2 linked regions of the Homo sapiens genome follow. The protein of the gene in region 1 interacts with the protein of each later gene in a biochemical or structural test. Each region holds a gene or a part of one and is shown on either strand. Other genes may lie near its edges. The genes, in order: OPRM1 and DNAJB4.

Region 1 (3,854 bases):
CTGGAGTGCAGTGGCACAATTTCGGCTCACTGCAAGCTCCGCCTCCCGGGTTCACACCATTCTCCTGCCTCAGCCTCCCGAGTAGCTGGGGCTACAGGTGCCTGCCACCATGCCCGGCTAATTTTTTGAATTTTTAGTAGAGATGGGGTTTCACCGTGTTAGCCAGGATGGTCTCGATCTCCTGACTTCGTGATCCACCCACCTCAGGCTCCCAAAGTGCTGGGATTACAGGCGTGAGCCACCACGCCCAGCCGTTTTTTTCTTACCATAAAGTGTTTTCATGTTGAGACGTTTCCACTTCAAAAAATTGTACCTAACAACCCAGAGCATGCTCTGAATTTCACCTTATCAAACTCTTTGTTTCTTGCAAATAATTTTCCTGCTCAAAACATCAAGAACACATTTTTAAAAAAAGTAGACTATCAGTGGATTTAGCTGCCTATATTTTCAACTATAGACTTTACAGTGGATATTTTTCTTCTCTGTATGGTTTGGTTAGAATTCTAGCTTAGGAAGTTATGGTTGTCAAGGTTTAGAGACATTTTGGTTCTAAAAATAGAAATAATTCATGAAGAGAGAAAGTTCACTTCTTTATTTTGAAGTATTTATTTAGTATCAAAGTTGTCTGTTACTCTAATTCTTAGGCTATTTACCTACGTCGCAACATTTACTTGGGGAATATTCTTTTAAAACAGGTCAGTAATGTCAGAATGAGAAAGACAAGGGAAAATCTAGATTTGTATCAGTTTTAGGTTTTATTTATCACATATAATTACACATTACATATTACATGCAGGAAACTTACAATACAGCCTAATATGTTTATGTATGCTGGTACATCAAGAACAATACAATGCAAAAATTTATATTTTTTATATACAACTATCTGAAACAGTCAAATAGGAGTAATGTAAAAATAATTTAGTGAATTGCTCACTGTTTGATATACTAGTTGACATTTTGATCTGCACATGAGACCATTATGATTTAGCAGGTAGTTCTTTTGAAAGCTGCATCTGATCATCCTGTCCTACCTGGAAATGTGAAATAGTAGCTTTGTCTCTACTTTAAATGAAGATATTTATTTTTCAATAGTAAACAGACATGATGATGGAACTAACACACTAATGAAGAGAAAAAAAAAAAAAAACCAAAAACTTATAGAAAAACTCCCAGACCATCAAAAGGAAAACAATGTTGTGTGTTTTTTTTTAACATTCCTTTTTGTGCATTATCACAACAAACAATATATGTATTTGTCTCTATAGGCGAAATACAGGTTTCCAGGCAAATATTTTTGAAAAGCAGATGTGGGGAAAGAGCTTAAAAACACACACAGAAAGCATGTTGTGCTCACTGTTACAACTGTGGATTTCATACCATGTTTTGAAAGGTGATTGTGTTTTCATTTACTTGGATACAAAATCCGTAAAACAGAAACTATTCTATACTTTTTTATTTTAATATGACCAGTTGACATTTCTATGTCCTGTTTAGGTGTCTGGACTACTGTAAATTAAAATGTCACCCTGGCATACAAACTGAATCTACGTGCAGAGCAGCAGGGGTCTATCTTTTATTTCACCCCCAACACTGTCAAGGAAACGAATTAATTCTGCCCTTCTTTCAGACTCAGGAATATAAGCAGCTAGAAAGAGGACAATGGGTGGAAGGGTTGATTGCTTATGTTAGGTTTGACTTAAAGCTATAGAATAAAGAAGGAACAATTCAGTTGCCATTCTTATTCCTGGAGAGGAAAAATAGTTTGTGGGCAGGAGTCTGTTTAAAATGTCTGAACTTAATCAACCATGAGAGGCTCTCATTTACTCAGATTCTTTACAATATTTTGATTTTTTTCCTACGGAAACATTATATGTATCTTTTAAAACCAAGGGTTATTAGTTACCTGAATTTCAAATGCAATTTAAAACATGGAGGACATCTTTTCTTTTCTAGTGGAAATTATATTTGGATAGCAAAAAATGTGTCATTAATGTTATAAAAAAATGTAATGACAAGTGACAGAGCACCTAATCTTTAGACTTACTTTTTTTTAACTTTCCTATTTGCTATGTTTGACAGAGTAGTTTTTCAATTTTTTAAAATAAATCTGCACTTACAAGGTTTCTTTTTTTCATATAACATAATAAAATGAAAACAACAAGATCACTCATTGTTTTACATTTTCATAACTGGCTATTTAAGTATGTAAAAGTTCAGGAAATGTATTGCCAGGGGAAGGATGACTTAGTGAAAACAGGCATTTTTTCTTTAATTCCCATTAAAATAATGGAAATGTATGTGCCAATATAAATTCCCATTTATATTGGTATATATATATTCCCTTTATATATTCTATTTATATTGGTAGATATATTTTTATGGAATGGCATATATACTTTCATATAATGGTACTAATGCTTTTATATGGATATACAATTAGTATATAAAGGGAATATATATACTAGTATTTCTAACTTAATTCCTATTAAATTGATGGGGATTTATAGGCAAATATTCATATAGCTATGCCTAACACAGAAATTTTTATGGTAGGAGTATTAAATTATAAATGGTAGCATTGAATTTTATGGATTCAAGATTTATGAAATTTTAAACATTTCTGGCCAGGCGCAGTGGCTCACACCTGTAATCCCAACACTTTGGGAGGCCGAGGCAGGCAGATCACGAGGTCAGGAGATCGAAACCATCCTGGCTAACGTGGTGAAACCCCATCTCTACTAAAAATACAAAAAATTAGCCAGGTGTTGTGGCGGGCACCTGTAGTCCCAGCTACTCAGGAGGCTGAAGCAGGAGAATGGTGTGAACCCGGGAGGCAGAGGTTGCAGTGAGCCAAGATTGAGCCACTGCACTCCAGCCTGGGCGACAGAGTGAGACTCCATCAAAAAAAAAAAAAAAAAAGAAAATTTAAACATTTCCATGAAATCGATGGTTTGGGTAGAGACAAAATAATTTAAATTTCAAATTAAGATTTAGATAGAGATAGTATAATTGAAAGCAAATTCTAATTTTCATTTTAAGTTTACTTCCAGAGTACAAATGTAAATAACAAGAGTGCAAGTAAATTATTGATGCTGGAGTTTCAAATAAGGAGGTAAGCCTTTGGTAAATTGTATTTTAGTATTGATTGCATTTTATTTTGATTACAACTATCATATAATTCCCACGGGTCCATTTCACTATGTTGTGTGTGTGTGTGTGTGTGTGTGTGTGTGTGTGCTGGGGGGGGAGGGTGTCGGTGGTAAAGTACGCTTAAAATGCAAAGTGCCTGACTGATAAGAGAAACTTCAACCAAACCAGCCATTTAAAAAAATCACAGGAGTCTTCAAAAGCTTGAGCAGCTGTAGAGCAATCCCCAACAGTCTGGGAGCTCATCAGACCTTGAACTAAAGAAATATGTTTCAAGAATAGATATAGAACTATTTTTCAAATGAATGTAGATGTTCTTATGAGAACTAAAATACACATCTGAAATTATTATTGACATTTTAGTTTTTCCATTATGATTTTCTGTAACAGTGGGCACTAAAACTCAATTATGTGGAAGTCTCCAATCATATATGATGTTGACATTGAGAGGAGAGAAAGACCCTCTCACATTGTTTTATATTGTTTCATATTCAGTAAAAACAACAAGGAAGTAAAACCAAATACAGGCAGCTCAGCGCCAGGCCCGAAACCAGGCCTGGGCCCGCCTGGCCTAAACCCAGTAGTTAAAAATCAACTTATGATTTAGAAGCCGATGTTATTCATAGATTCCTTACATTGTATAGAAGAACATTGTTCTGTTCTCTATTGTATAGAAGAACTCCCTGTCCTGTTCTGTTCCTCCC
Region 2 (4,126 bases), on another chromosome or scaffold:
ACAGTGTATCTAAATGGGATTTTTTAATAGAATAAATGAGATATTCTGAATAAACGGCAAACAAATATAATACTTTCCTGTGAAGGAAGAATAATTCTAAAAAATAATTCAAATAACTTTCATTCAATTGTATTTTCTTTTTTTCCTTTTCTTTTTTTGAGATGAGGTCTCGCTCTGTCGCCCAGGCTGAAGTGCAGTGGCTCGATCTCGGCTCACTGCAACCTCTGCCTCTTGGGTTCAAGTGATTCTCCTACCTCACCCTTCCAAGTAGCTGGGATTAGAGGTGTCTGCCACCACACCTAGCTAATTTTTGTATTTTTAGTAGAGACAGGGTTTCACCATGTTGGCCAGGCTGGTCTCGAACTCCTGACCTCAGGTGATCGCCTGTCTCGGCCTCCCAAAGTGTTGGAATTACAGGCATGAGCCACGGCGCCTGGCCCATTCAATTGTATTTTCAAGTAACCTATAACTAGAGAATGGTATTTCTGCATAATATATTTCTATGTTTTAAAAAAGGCATTCTCTCCTCACTCTTTCCTTCTATCACTTATATCAATTATGTAAGTTAAAAAAAAAAACCCAGGGTATACAGATTCAGGGTGATTTAGTTTTTAAAAAATTCACTCATTGTGTAATGACCAATAAAAATTAAATGAGAAAAATCACTCTAGAAAAGCACTATTAAGAGATAATGTTAAATCAAGAAAAATGTATCATTTGGTGACTTGAAAATTCTGAAGACAAATATCCTTACTAAACCCTGGATCCAATGGCTTAGCCACAAACTTGAGCTATCAGTGAATTGTTGCAAAATATTTTAAATACAAAGCAGTGGATATCTGCTTTTTCACAGGAATTCACAGTGTCATTCCATGTTTGTGAATTTCTTTACAAAATTACAAAATTACTCCTTTAGAAATAGTAGTACATTATTGGTAGTATCTCAGAATCCTGCTTAGCTTTTGAGATAAACCAAGTCATGATATTTTGGGTAATATGGCCATAGGTATCATGCAAGATTGAACTGCCCAGTATTTGCCTTTTTCAATATTTACTTTGTAAGAACCTGACACTGTAGGTCCTCACCACACCAAAACCTGCAACATAAACTTCAATTTTGGGCAACTCATAGACCAAAAAAGCTAAACAAAACAAAAAGGAAAAAACCCTCTATATACAATCACCCTGCTTGTCTACATTTAATTTGTTTCATTCAAAATAAGCAGTCACTGCTTGACTATATTTTAAGGATATATTTCTAATTAGGAAAATTTGATGTTAAATGTAATAAAGGAATCAAAGGGATAACAAGTTTTCATAGCTACAGTGATTTGAAAGCCAGTATTTTGGGAGAAAAACTAATAATAAAATAACTTAGTCCTGATGTTAAAAGTTGAAAATCCCCAAAACAGTACAAGTTAAAGTTTTTTGTGTTATCAATTAGCAATTTAAAATAGTCTTACTTCATAGCCCCGTTTATATGGAAGTGATGGACAAACCTGATTTAAAATGCAGAATGAGAAAAGGATAATCTGAAATTATCCTCCTTTACTGTGCTCACTAGTTTTTGATCTCACAATGCAAAAAACAAAAGTATGGCAGGGAGAGGAAAGGGAAGTTGTCATGTTTTTCTCTATACCTAGATAGTAAAATTTCTAAATAAATAATGTTATCTAAAAGTAAATCAGTAATTATTCTAACTAGGTGGCCATTTTAGGTCAAAAATTGTATTTCTGAGATTTCATTTTCTTGGCACAAAATTATTGTTTACAATTAAGCTAAAAACTTGTTCTGGTATTTTATGACATCAGGAAAATTCTTTCCTCTCCAGGCAGAATGCCAAAAACAACTAGAAGCTAAATGCCTGCGCCTTCTGCTTCTGAGAGTCACAACTCTGTCTTGTTCAGTCTAAACTAGCCTTGCTATAAGAAAGGCAAAAAACTACTTTTTGTTTTTGTGAATAAGCTATAAACTACTCAGAATCTGAAATGCCAATCTTAAGGTTTTAAATGACTAAAGACTCTTTATTGGTTCTGGCAGAAAATTCATTAGAAAACGAAACAGGTTTCATAAGACTTTTGACACAATTTACTAATAGGTATGGGAATTCAAGGTTTATTTTAAAATATACATTGTTAACATTGTAAGTCTAATGATAAAATATGTATAATACAAAATGCTAAAATAAAAAAGGCAAACAAGGACATTTCATTCATGGCTCTGCAATACTCATTCATATGATCAGAGATGAAACCTTGTTATTATACATTTGTCCTTCTACTTTTGATATGACTGAGAATCCAATTTAAGGATAACCTTAACAAGCTGAGAGAGAGGGGAAAAAGGCTGGCAGAGAGAGAGAAAAAAAAAAAAGAGACAGAGCTGAAGAGACAGAAAGATATACAGAGAATACTTACCTTCCTCCCCAAACTGATCATATATTTCTCTCTTTTTAGGATCACTCAATACTTCATAAGCTTCTGCGACCTCTTTAAATTTTTCCTCTGCCTGAGGAGATTTGTTCTTGTCCGGATGAAATTTGAGGGCTTGTTTTCGGTAAGCCTTTTTAATATCTTCATCTGAAGCTCCTTTCTCAATTCCCAAAATGCAATAATAGTCTTTCCCCATTTCGAATGCCTTGAAATTAACTTAGATTTCCCTTTGTAAAAGAAAACAGCGTCCCCAGTCTTAGCAACAGATTCTAAGAAAAATAAACCAAGCTGGGTATTTTAAAAGTTAATCAGCAATTCAGCTAGCTGTCTTAAGGCAGCAAGCAGACAGCGTCTCTGTATTCAATCCTTCCCCAACGGCTCACTTACAGATAAATATACACTACACAGGAGACAGCCTCCTTCTAGATCCTCCCATTTTCACTACGTGTCTCTGTACTTTCTAGAACAGCAAATGCTACAGGACGTCACTTTCCCAGCTGCCTCTAGTCAAAGTACTGAGCTATGTTTTCTCCTCCTCCACGATTAACTATTCATTTTCCGACTAGCTCTACCGTCTTTATTTCCTAATTAAACAGGACAAATGGGTTAACATGCCAATATTTCAACACAGAATGTCACAACTATATATTTATGTACTCCATACTAGGTGAAAATCATCACAGTCATTAAACACCCTATGTTAAAAGAAGTTAAAGTTAATATACAGATAAAAGGAACGACAATTCTACTTTAGGGATTTTTTAATTTTAAGCTATTTGTCTGTTAAGTATATAATACCAAAACGCAGGTTGTTTAAATTAGGATTTCCAAGTAATTTATGTCGTCTTCAAAATTCCTGGGGTCTATCAATCAGAAACGCCAGAAAGTTTGTGTACTAGTTTCACATTGTTAAGGGAGTATCTATAATAAAATTCAAATGCGTTATTTTAAAATAAGTAAAGGACTTAAACATGATTTTAGCTAACTAGTTATTTCTAGTATACATGAGTTCATAGTTCTGGCAAACAAATACTTATTTTTGAAATTTTAGTATCTGAACTTAGTTACTTCAACTAAACTAAAACTGAATGAGGTCCCTGCCACCCCTCAACCCCCGTCCCCTGCAGCCGCCCCACAGGATCCCTATTTAAAGAACTGTGGTGCTGCAGGAAAGCTAGAACAAAGTATCAGGTTACAGACAGTACATACTCATGTTCCTTACAAGACTTAACTGCAACTGCATCAATGTAAAATTTGGATATGCCACTTAAGGGGCAGTAATATGAGAAATATTTTTTCTTTCAAAAACACATTTCCCTAATTATAAATATATATTCATTGTTGGAGATTTTGGAAAACGCAGAAAAAAGTTTTTAAAAATCTCCCTATAATATCATTTTAGGTAATCCCTGTTAAATATTACTGTATTTACTTCTAATTCTGTTTTCTATAAATCTTCATGGTTATTTGCTGTAGTTTTATAATTTTTTGTTAACAAAGTTAGATCATAGCATTTATATACCCTTTTGATGCCTGCTTTTGAAAGTATAACATATTTCAGGTATTTATGAGACATTTTCTATGTATATAACTCATCTTTTATCTCCTGTATGGTTTTCTCATCTTTTCAAAAATGTTCCCATTTCTATTAGAGAGATAAATAAGAAAAGTCAGAAGAATTGCACACAGTCCAA

What was found.
Region 2: the proteins of OPRM1 (region 1) and DNAJB4 form a complex in vitro, tested with the Homo sapiens proteins (one study listed by BioGRID).

What each region holds. Positions count from the first base shown.
Region 1 is NC_000006.12:154,129,239-154,133,092, reverse strand, and holds the end of OPRM1 (mu-type opioid receptor), read right to left. Parts: 3' UTR 737-3,854; downstream 1-736. UniProt on the Homo sapiens protein: Receptor for endogenous opioids such as beta-endorphin and endomorphin. Receptor for natural and synthetic opioids including morphine, heroin, DAMGO, fentanyl, etorphine, buprenorphin and methadone.
Region 2 is NC_000001.11:78,003,613-78,007,738, reverse strand, and holds the start of DNAJB4 (dnaJ homolog subfamily B member 4), read right to left. Parts: upstream 2,801-4,126; 5' UTR 2,629-2,800; coding exon 2,418-2,628; intron 1-2,417. UniProt on the Homo sapiens protein: Probable chaperone. Stimulates ATP hydrolysis and the folding of unfolded proteins mediated by HSPA1A/B (in vitro).